Linked DNA regions of Homo sapiens. The protein of the gene in region 3 interacts with the protein of the main gene of each other region in a pairwise test. Each region holds a gene or a part of one and is shown on either strand. Other genes may lie near its edges.

Region 1 (3,751 bases), on a different chromosome or scaffold from region 3:
CAACTCTGTGGGATCCCTGTTCTGCTTTGCAATTACCTCGAGTTCAGGAAGTTCCCAAGGTACAACATAATGCAACATAATGTGTTTCCCAAGTGCCTTTGTTAGTAAGTTGTTTGGATTCAGAACAGATTTTCCCAGCAAAAGAAGGCTCTTAGTGGTGTTTACAGTCTAGCCTGCAACATCTTACTCAACATACTACACCTTTGTTGCGTCAAGTATTCAGTAAATGCTGGTGGTTGAGTATTTCTGTGTTTACCAGGTTGCCCTTCAGCACCGTGATGTTTGAGCTGAGCTGTTCTCTCCCTTGACAGAGAGAGCTCTTTCCGACCCCCGCCCCTCCGAGACGGAGTCTTGCTCTGTCGCCCAGGCTGGAGTGCAGTGGCGCGATCTCGGCTCACTGCAACCTCCGCCTCCCAGGTTCAAACGATTCTCCTGCCTCAGCCTCCAGAGTAGCTGGGATTACAGGTGCGTGCCACCACGCCCGGCTTTTTGTATTTTTAGTAGAGACGGGTTTTCACCATGTTTGCCACCGAGCTTTTTTATCATATGCAAAGCTTCTGCTTGTAAAAGTAAACACATGATCTTTCTTTAGCCCTAGCTTCGCAAGTTGTACTTCTCTCTACACAGTTCAACTGCAAGACACCGCAATAATTTTCTGAACACTTAGATGAAACAATAATTTTCACATGCTGATGAAAACTTAGCTGTAGCCCCGGGGAGGTTTGAGGCACATTAGGCTATTATGGTCTATAGGATAAGACCCACGGAGTAAGGGACGTAACCTTATTAAAACATCCTCTGCAGAGAAAACAGAATCTCTTTGATGGTAGGGGACAGATTATCTAACAGGTTGTTTGCAAGGATGAGGTTCCTAGCTGGCACACAGAAGGGCGCAGTATTAATGGTGAATGCAAGATGAATGAATGAACGGATGGATGGATGGCAAAGGGTCACAGGAAGACATCTGGGCACACAACTCTCATTGCTTCCTAAGGGCCTGAAGTCTGAGTGGGAAGGACTTCACCTCACAGTATTTCCTTTTTGTAAGGTCACCAGGAAAGCACAACTTTGAACATTTCTGTGACTTCGTTATTGCTTTGCAGAATTCAGAGAGAACAATGCCTTCATGACATTTGTTTTACTTTGCATCTTTCTTCTTTACTAAAGGTGGGTCAGTGGAGGTTTTATATTTCAGCTTTGAAAAACAAAGTATCCAGGACTATTTGCCCCAGGAGGCCAAGAAACCTCTTACAAGAACCTTAAATATTGTTGGTTGCCTCTGGGGGCTGTCCGCACCCTCGGGTAGCTTTGGGGTTGAGGTTTCCAGCGTTAGGTCGGGCTTGGAGTAGAGCCTGCCTCCCACGGGGGTGGTGGGTGTGGGCTGCACTTCCCGCAGCCACTTCAAACAAATCTCTGAGGACAGAGGGGCAGAGGGACTGCGTTCTAATACGGAGCTCCGAGGTATGGCTCCGTGAGGCTTGTGGGTACTAGCGGTCCTTTAGTGGGCGCTTTTCCCTCTCGGGGCCGGCCGACCACCCACCTGGGGACGATCCCAGGCAGGAACGCGTCTGCAAGAGCGCTGCCCTCCCGCGGCTCGCACGGGCCCCTTTGAGCGCAGCTCGCGGCCTTGCAGGTTGGGGACGCTCTCCAGTGGGAACGTCGAACGCACCCGGCGGGGCGGGGCGGGGCAGGGAGGGGCCGCTGTCCCTAGGTCCCTCCCTCGCACCGCCAAACTTTCCTTTGGCTCTGGACGCGTCGCAGGGGTCGCTGGAGAGGAGGCGCTCCGCCCGCCCGCCGCGTCCTCCGCTGCTTCTCCGCGCCCGGCTGGAGCCCGGCGCCCGGTCGCCCCGTCGCGCTCGACCCCGAGGGCATGCGGCAGCCGCAGGGGCCCCCGCTCCCGGGCTCGGCGGCGCGGGTGAACGTGAGCGGTGAGTGAGGGTCCGGGCGCAGGGAGGGTACCCCGAGCCGCAGTCACCAGGGCGTGCGTCGTGGGGAGGCCGGGGCGCAGCGGCGCCTGCAGGGCTCTAGCCTGCGGCTTTTCGGGGTTGCCTGGCGTGCAAGCCTGGGCTCCAGACCCACTCCAAACCCCGGGACAAGACTCTCCCGGCGGGTGTATGGCACAACTTGCTCTTTTCCCACCTTTTTCCCCGCTAGGAGCAAAAAGCAATCTAGATGCAAAATCGGCGTTGCGTCCGCTGCTGAGGGCTGGCGGGCTGGGCGCAGAGGCCAGGAGAGCGCCGCACGGGTTGCGTCTGCCTTTGCACACGTGGTTCTTTCCAAACTCAGTCTCATTGCCATCGATGGTGATTAGGAAACTGGGGTTCTCTCGTGAAGCCTAGGGATATAACATTTTTCAGCCTCCAGTTACATCTGGTACTGTGCTGTGTCCGCTGGGGAACAGCTTGAACCATGTGCAGGCTTCTAGAGATTCGGGAACTAGTAACTAGCAACACTGTCGGGGTTGTTTGTTCAGGGTATGCCCCCTCACCACCACGAGACAAAAGTGCTTTTGTTCTGTAGCAGAGTTACTTTATTGCTTTCCCTCAACAAGTTGCAGCTACACAAAATTGCTTAGAAATTCCGCACGCATGTAATTTGAGGAGTGACTGTGAATATTGGAAACAATTTAGTCTTATTAAGGTAATCATTAAAATGGCCCTGAAAAGCATTTGTAGGTTAGTTTTTATTTATTTATTTATTTATTTATTTATTTATTTATTTATTTATTTTTGAGACACAGTCTCGCACTATCATCCGGGCTGGAGTGCAGTGGCGCGATCTCGGCTCACTGCAACCTCCGCCTCCCAGGTTCGAGCGATTCTCCTGCCTCAGCCTCCCTAGTAGCTGGGATTGCAGGCGCCCACCACCACGCTAGGCTAATTTTTTGTATTTTTAGTAGAGACGGGGTTCCACTGTGTTGGCCAGGCTGATCTCGAACGCTTGACCTCGTGATCCACCCTCCTCAGCATCCCAAAGTGCTGGGATTACAGGTGTGAGCCACTGCGCCCGGCTAGGTCAGTTTTTTAAACTGAGTAATTTCCACGAAATGTTTCCCCCGTAATTTGTTATTGTCATTACAACGCTTTTCTTCCTCCTTTTCCTCCGAAAGTAGCATTACCTGGTCTTGAGATGCCGTTTAGAAATAAAGGGCTTTCTCACGGTTCCAACTTAGTCTGTATCAGAGAATAAAGTAAATGTCAATTACAGACAGACAATCAATCTCCTCTTTACAAATTCCATGTACCGCACAACGTTTCATTAATGCATGGACTTTTGTATCGCTGAGAAGAGTTGCTGGATTTTCCATTGATCCATCAACAGTTGCTAACCCTGCTTTCCATGGGCAGTGGATCTGATATTTAGTGGCCTGAGTCCAGTAAACAGAGTTTTCCTCTTTTTGGGACAGAAGTGATACGGTTAGAAACACACACCTTGGCTCTGTTAACCCCAGGCTTGTCTAAACAAACTGGACTATACTAAAAAGACGAGCGAGCAAACCCTGCCAGTCAGAGTTGTGTACTTGAGATAAGCTTCCAGAGTTGTCTCTTGTGCCTTGAGACAGCAAGGAACTAGTTATCCTGTGGAGATCTGGACGTCTAACTATTTGGACAACACTTACATTGATTGTCACTATCATATAACTAAGAAAATAGGTCATTTTGGCAAAAATTTTTTCTTTGTCTTTAGAATTTGAAACTTTGAGGTTTTGATTTAATTACATATGACACTCCTCTTGTCTAAACCTTTCAAT
Region 2 (3,751 bases), on a different chromosome or scaffold from region 3:
GGAGCAGACTGTAGATGGATGTAAGGTAACTCATGAGAGTGGCACATGAACAGGTGAAATTCAGGAAGCCAATCCAAGTGTGCCTGGAAGGAAGTAGTTCTCTGAATCCACCCTCTTATAAAATAGACACCGAGGGAAAGAAAGCTTACCTTACCTTGTCACCAAAGGTAAGACAAGGAAAAGAAAACTGCTATACCAGTCTAAATAAAAAGACTGCCCAGCAATCAACAGTTCTTTTCCCCTCTCTGACAACTGCAGGATGTTGGCAGGGTTTCTCAATAGACAAACTGTATTAGAATCATGTAGAGTATGAGCCGGGCACGGTGGCTCATGCCTATAATCCCAGCATTTTGGGAGGCCAAGGCATGCCAATCACCTTAGGTCAGGAGTTCAAGACCAGCCTGGCCAATATTGAGAAACCCCGTTTCTACTAAAAATACAAAAATTAGCTGGGCGTGATGGTGGGCACCTGTAATCCCAACTACTTGGGAGGCTGAAGCAGGATAATTGCTTGAACCAGGGAGGTGGAGATTACAGTGAGCCGAGATCATACCACTGCACTCCAGCCTGGGCGACAGAGCAAGACTCCTCACAGAAGGATCACATCAGGCACAGAAGGATCCACATAGAAAAGATTCACACCCACCCACAATTGCCCTGGAGAAGGAAGGGGAGAGACAAAACAAACAAACAAACATGTAGAGTATGAATGAACCAGACAATAGGGTTGGGGCCTAGGAATCTTATGCACAAAGAAATTTTGAGGACCACTGTTTTGAAGGTCAACAGTTCTAACTGCCCCCCCATACACCTTAGTGTTTCAAAAAGTGAGTTGTGAGAACAACCAGTGATATTCAGAATGATTTTAGCATGGAAGACTTATGCCTTCATTTCATTGTGCATTAAAATATTAAATACAACTGGTATCTCACAAACCAATAATTTCATAGATATTATTGCTTACGATGAAGCCAAGTAAAAATCTAAGGTAAAATTTACTAAGTGCATAATGGAGCAGACTGTAGATGGATGTAAGGTAACTCATGAGAATGGCACATGAACAGGTGAAATTCAGGAAGCCAATCCAAGTGTGCCCGGAGGGAAGTGGTTCTCTGAATCTGCCCTCTTGACAACACAGCTCATTCCATCCTCCTGCATTTTACATCAGGCACAGAAGGATCCACATAAGAGAGATTCACACCCACCCACAATTGCCCTAGAGAAGGAAGGGGAGAGACAGAGAGCCTTTACTTATGTACCACGGAGCTTCAGAGTTAAGCCAGGTGCCCCTGCCTATCTCTACGTGGAGAACAATTGAACATGGGTGGAAGTAGCAGGCTCCTAGGAGCCGGGCCCTGGTGGGTGGCAGTATACGTGCATGTGTTGGTGGTCACTGAGACTTGGGTGGCCTGATTCTGTATTGTGCATGATTTGCTTTTCTGGCCACTAATAGGTCTCACGGTGAAGACAGCAGAACCAGATGGAGTAGGGGCTCAAGGAACAGGTAGCCACACCAACACTTCCCAGGAGTTCAGCCCTTTACAGGCCACAGAGCAACAATATTGTTGAATGTCAGAGTGAAACAGACCGCAGCCACCAAGTGATCGAAGTCTCTCATTTTCCAGCTGAAAAACAGGAATACAGAGAGAGAGTCTTCTGGTCAAGGTAGCAGCACTGACTGGTAACTGAAGTTGGTCGGATCAGTTAAAGCCTCCTTTTCCGGAGTTCTGTTACGATATATGACTCTCTACGCCAGTTCCCTAGTAGGGACTCATGACTGACTGTCTCCCTGGCAATGACAGAAACTCCAATCCTATTCGACTCATTTAATGATTTGGTATAGGATTCAGAGGCGCACGCGGCGAAGGCTGAGCAAGGGCTGTCTGTGGTTAAGCTCATCACAGGATGAGGCCATGCCCCACGCAACTCAGTCAGAGCTGGGCTTGCGATGATGCACCCAGAGTAGTTGTTTTGGGTGGGGGCTGCGAGGAACTCATAAAAGATGTAAGAGGAGGAGAAAGTTGGCAAGAAGTGGATGCTTTCATCTGCAGAGAAAGGCCCCTGAGCCCTAAAAAAACTGCCCTCCTCCCCACTCCCCCCTCCTCCCCCCGACACACAAAAAAGTTCACCCACTACACCTGCCTTCCCCAGATGGGCTCCCTGCGCAACGCCTCCTCGTCCTCCGAGATTTTCCAATGGTGGCGCAAGCTCCTCCCTCGCCCGAGCTGGGCGCCGTCCTAGAGCCAAGCGCCCGCTAGAGCCGAGACTAGGGGGCGGTGAGGAGTGGGACCCGCTCGCGGCCATTGGTTGTGCGGCCAGGAGGGGCGGAGGGACGACGCGCGGGCTGTGCGGGGCCGGCAGCCCGGATCCACTCCCGCTGCGCCTGCTGTCCGCCGTGCGCCCAGACTGCGCGCCGCGCCGCTGCGCCCAACATTCCCGAGGACGGCTTCGCGGGCGCGTATCGTCCAGACCGGAGCACCGCCCCACCGCTAGCGCAGGAGACCTGCCGGGGAAGTCGCGTGTCCTGACCTGCAGGTCAGTGAGGGAAACTTGCAGGGTCCCGAGCTCTGGGGGTGAACTTGCCCTACGCGGAGAGCGCCCCACTCCTTGCCTGGGGCGGCCTCGGGTCCTGGAGGCGAGCCGCCTCCCAGACTCTCCCCCGAGATCTGGGCTCCCGGAGATGTGGCTCCTTTCTGAGAAACACCCCCAAATCTATCCCTTTTGAGGTGTCCTTACTGTCCCGAGAAGCAATCGCAGCCCGGCTCTCCGAGTCTTGGGGTGACTCCACGGGCTGCAGGAGGAGCCGCGAGGGGCCCTGAGTGCAATGTCCTTGGCCCCGTGTTGACCTGCCTCGGTCCCAGACACTGGGAACCGGGAAGGTCTACCCTCGCTCTGCAAGGTGGATTCCTCCATGCAAGTGTAGACAGTTCTACACTTTGCAGAGTGTGTCTAGGTGCCTTCTGTTTGCTTTTGCCTTTGTGGTGTGTGGAGGGTCATTCTTGGGTTTGTTTTGCTCCTGTCTGATTTTCTAGGGTCATTTGCGTCCCTTCTCGGGAACGGGGACTCGCCATGCGCACACTGACAGCTGGCTTTGCACCTGCTAAGGCGCTGGAGAGTCTTTTCGCCCGTCTTAGGGTGGCCCTAAATCCGGGGAAGTTTTATGTGGCGCTGAACACTTGCGTTTCCCAGGGGCGTTTTCCCTAGCTCCCGGAAACCCAGTAGGTAACTGCGCCAGCGACCCTTCCCCTCTTCCCGGGTCTGATGAGACACTGGAATCCTGCCTTTCCCTGTCGAGGTGTGCGAATGATGGGCAAATTGCTTCAGTTCTGATTTAGGAAAGGGATATGTAATGTGCCCTCCTCCAGGGAGCAGAGGGATTCATTCACAGAAATATCTTGTTGAGGACCAGGATTGGGGCTATGCCTGCCCGCTTTCCTCCACCAGATGCCCGGGCTCCATCGGACTTGGGTTTGATCTCAGACTCTAGAGATGGGGTCTGTTTGTTAGTGTCCTTCATTTCCTCTCCCTGTTAATTTTTCTTCGGAAAATGTTCTGCTAAAGTAAGTACTTCAGTGTTCTTTGTGGTAAATGATGGGCTCCGATGTCTAGAGGACGTCTCAAAGCCATCGCATTTGGTACCGTCTGCACTACAGGTGCAAAGGGCGGGGAAACTGACAGCGTTACTGTCCTGGGGCGGACCCGCGGGACTACTCCCTAAGACGTTTCTCCTAGGTGCCTTCTCCTAGGTGCT
Region 3 (3,751 bases):
AAAGAAATACTTATTTTATAATTTGTAATTTTGTACTTTTTATTTTACTATTTTTCATAATTTTAAGTATATACATTACTAAAGTTAAATTAATGTTCTAAATAATTAATCTTTTCATTTTAACGTTTCTCCTCTATCTTTCTCTGAAATTCACCCCCCTTCTTCTGACTTTAATCAGTTTTATTGTTAGATAGCTAATAATTTATTTCCATTGATGTATCAAAAATAAATACAGGATGATAATTTTTTCAGAGAAATCTTAATTTTTTTCTCAACATAGCAAATTTGGAGTACAACAATTTTTTTTTCATTTATGGTACCAATAAAAGGGCACACATCTCAAAACGAGACTTTTATAGGGGCTCAGTGGAGAATAAGTGGTATCAAAATTAACTATTACTTGAAGGATATTAGCAAGCTTCATTTCCCTAAAAATTTATGGAAGTTGATCATGAAACACCTGAATATGAATTCAACTACATAGATAAAAATTTCCATGTGACTTTAGCCTATCTCTACATGACTTGGTTGGAGTTATTATACTGAGGACAGAAAGAGATATAAGAGTAATATGTTTGTGCTTAGATTCTCAAAAAATGATTTGATGGATCCTTGCTATGCACCAGCAAGTTAGGATTTAAAGCAATGTAATAGGACAAGAGATTTAGATTTGTGGTGCCAAGAATATGACTGAGAGCCATAAGTTTCATTCCCAAAGTTCAGAGTTTGTGGCACAAAATACAAGGTTACATAAATCACACTCAGCAAGGAGGAACATGGGAAGATTTTCAGCCCTGTGAATTTAACTGTGCTCTGATTAGAAAAGGAGGAACTATGCAATACTATACAATAAATTGGAAGGCAGATTAGTTTGTGTAGTTTATTACTATTATAAAAGTAATCCTTCAGCTGGGTGCGGTGGCTCACACCTGTAATTCCAGCACTTTGGGAGGCCGAGGCGGGCGGATCACAAGGTCAGGAGATGGAGACCATACTGGCCAACATGGTGAAACTCTGTCTCTACTAAAAATACAAAAATTGGCTCAGCATGGTGGCACGCGCCTGTAGTAACAGCTACTCGGGAGACTGAGGCAGGAGAATCGTTTGAACCCAGGAGGCAGAGGTTGCAGTGTGCCGAGATCGCGCCACTGCATTGCAGCCTGGTGACAGCGTGAGACTCCATCTCAAAAAAAAAAAACAAAAAAACAAAACTAAAAAACAAAGTAATCCTTTGTGGGTAAGTGGCTGTAATCAAGGGATTAGGCAGTAAGAGGGATAGAAATAAAATCTGAGCCGACTTGGAATTGGAACTTAAAGAAATTTCTCTAATTTTAGAGGTCCAACAGGTTTACCTCGCTTCTGTCAACATGTCCCTCTCTGCAGGATTTTCTAGCATCTTGATATCATATGACATTTAGTTTCTCTCCCACCTGCCCCCGCCCCACACACACACTTAATGTGTTGCCTATTCCACTTCCCCAGCTCTAACAGCTATTATGATATGGGAAGAGAATGTAGACCAGATTCTGTCCTTAGGGAGGAACCTGCCCCAAAGTGTCATGTCCTCTTTTGCCATTTCCAGGACATCATACTAAATTACATTTCTTATTGTAGCACCTTTTCTGCTGCCATGACAACCATGCAAGGAATGGAACAGGCCATGCCAGGGGCTGGCCCTGGTGTGCCCCAGCTGGGAAACATGGCTGTCATACATTCACATCTGTGGAAAGGATTGCAAGAGAAGTTCTTGAAGGGAGAACCCAAAGTCCTTGGGGTAAGTTGCAAATCTAGGGGAAGACCAATGGTGTTGCAAACTCATATTTCATAAGACCTAATGCCAAATACACTGTCCCACTAGCCTCATAATACAACAGCCAACCCTCACGACGTCAGTAATTACTTTTCAGGCTCTTCATCTGAAAAACTATATAGTATTCTGTCACAACATGCTTCCAGTTGAGTTATATTTAAAATATATTGAGTTCAGATCTATTCTAGGGTTGTGGGTCATCCATGATAATTGTATTTAAACTCAGTGTGGAAAAGCAGCAAAATAAAAGGCCACCTATGCACTACTAGCTGACGCCCCCTTTACAGGCCTTCCTGATAGCTGACAGGCACATATTGCTACTATTTCTTTCTGGCACCTTTTCTTAGCCCCCTGCTCAGAGGATGAAAAATCTATCCTCTGAGCATTTCCATCTGGAGTCTCAGATGAGCATGCCCAAAAGAAATGAAGGATTAAAAGAATGACAGAATAGGGCAGGTGAAAGGATATTAAATATAGGTTTATCACTAGCCCAAGCTTCAAACCACGGGAAAATGTCACTGTGGATATTCTGGATCCTTTTTTCACATTATTCATTTTCTGGAGGGGGGGAAATATAGTTATTTCTCATAAAATATGTTATTTATGTTGGCACATACTAGGTTTGTTTGTTTATTTATTTTTAATTTTATTTTTTGAGATGGAGTCTCGCTCCATCATCCAGGCTGGAGTGCAGTGGCACAATCTGGGCTCACTGCAACCTCCGTCTTCCGGGTTCAAGAGATTCTCCTGCCTCAGCCTCCTGAGTAGTTGGGATTACAGGCATGAGCCATCACACCTGGCTAATTTTTGTATTTTTAGTAGAGACGGGGTTTCAGCATGTTGGTCAGGCTGGTCTTGAACTCCTGACCTCGTGATCTGCCTGCTTCAGCCTCCCAAAGTGGGTTTATTTTTTAATGTATGAATAATTATTTTAAAATATACTGTATGTTTTAGAGCAGTTTTAGGCTTAAAGAAAAATTGAGAGCAAAGTACAGATCTATCCCATATGCCCCTTGCCCCCACAAATGCATAGCTTTTTAATTATCAACCTCCTCCACCAGCATGTAACCTTTGTACCAATTGATGAACTACATTGACACATCATTACTAAAAGTACACAAATCACAATGGGGTTCATTCTCTGTGTTGTGTGTTCTGTGGGTTTTAACACAAGTATAGTGATATGAATCTACCTTTGTAGTATCACATAGTATCCCACCAATCCCTGGCAACCACAAATCTTTTATTGTCTTCATAGTTTGCCTTTTCCAGAAAGTCATACAGTTGGAATTGTACAATAGGTGTTTTTTTTAGATTGCGTTCTTTCACCTAAATACATGCATTTAAATTTCCTCCATGTTTTCTTATGGCTTGATAGCTCATTTATTTTTAGTACTGAATAATATTTCATTGTCTAGAAGCACCACAGTTTATTTATGCATTCACCTACTGAAGGACATCTTGATGGCTTCCCAACTTTGGCAATTAGGAGTAACATTGCTATAAATATCTGTGTGCAGGTCATGTGTGGACATAAGTTTTTCAACTCATTTGGTTAAGTATGATTAGTGTATTGTAAGTAAGAGTACGTTTAGTTTTGTAAGAAACTGCCATACTGTCTTCCACATGGCCTTGTCACTTTGAAGATTTCAATCAACAGTCAATGAGTTCCTGCTGTTCTGCAAAATCTCCAGCAATTGGTAGTGCCAGTGTTCTGGATTTTTACCATTCTAACAGGTGCTAGTGGAATCTCACTATCATGTTAATTTGCATTTCCCTTGTGACATAAGATGTGGACCATCTTTTCATGCGTTTCTTTACCATCTCTATATCTTCTTTCGTAAGGTGTCTTGTTAAATTCTTTGGCACATTTTTAATGAGGACGTTTATGTTCTTATTGTTAAGTTTTAAATTTGTTGTATATTTTGGGTAACGATCCTT

What was found.
Region 1: the proteins of MS4A4A (region 3) and LPAR3 interact in binary tests that used the Homo sapiens proteins (3 or more experiments, as listed by UniProt).
Region 2: the proteins of MS4A4A (region 3) and SERTM1 interact in binary tests that used the Homo sapiens proteins (3 or more experiments, as listed by UniProt).

The regions. Positions count from the first base shown.
Region 1 is NC_000001.11:84,891,193-84,894,943, reverse strand, and holds the start of LPAR3 (lysophosphatidic acid receptor 3), read left to right. Parts: upstream 1-1,737; 5' UTR 1,738-1,928; intron 1,929-3,751. UniProt on the Homo sapiens protein: Receptor for lysophosphatidic acid (LPA), a mediator of diverse cellular activities. May play a role in the development of ovarian cancer. Seems to be coupled to the G(i)/G(o) and G(q) families of heteromeric G proteins.
Region 2 is NC_000013.11:36,671,650-36,675,400, forward strand, and holds the start of SERTM1 (serine-rich and transmembrane domain-containing protein 1), read left to right. Parts: upstream 1-2,370; 5' UTR 2,371-2,535; intron 2,536-3,695; exon of another isoform or gene 3,696-3,751.
Region 3 is NC_000011.10:60,290,611-60,294,361, forward strand, and holds part of MS4A4A (membrane-spanning 4-domains subfamily A member 4A), read left to right. Parts: intron 1-1,614; coding exon 1,615-1,774; intron 1,775-3,751.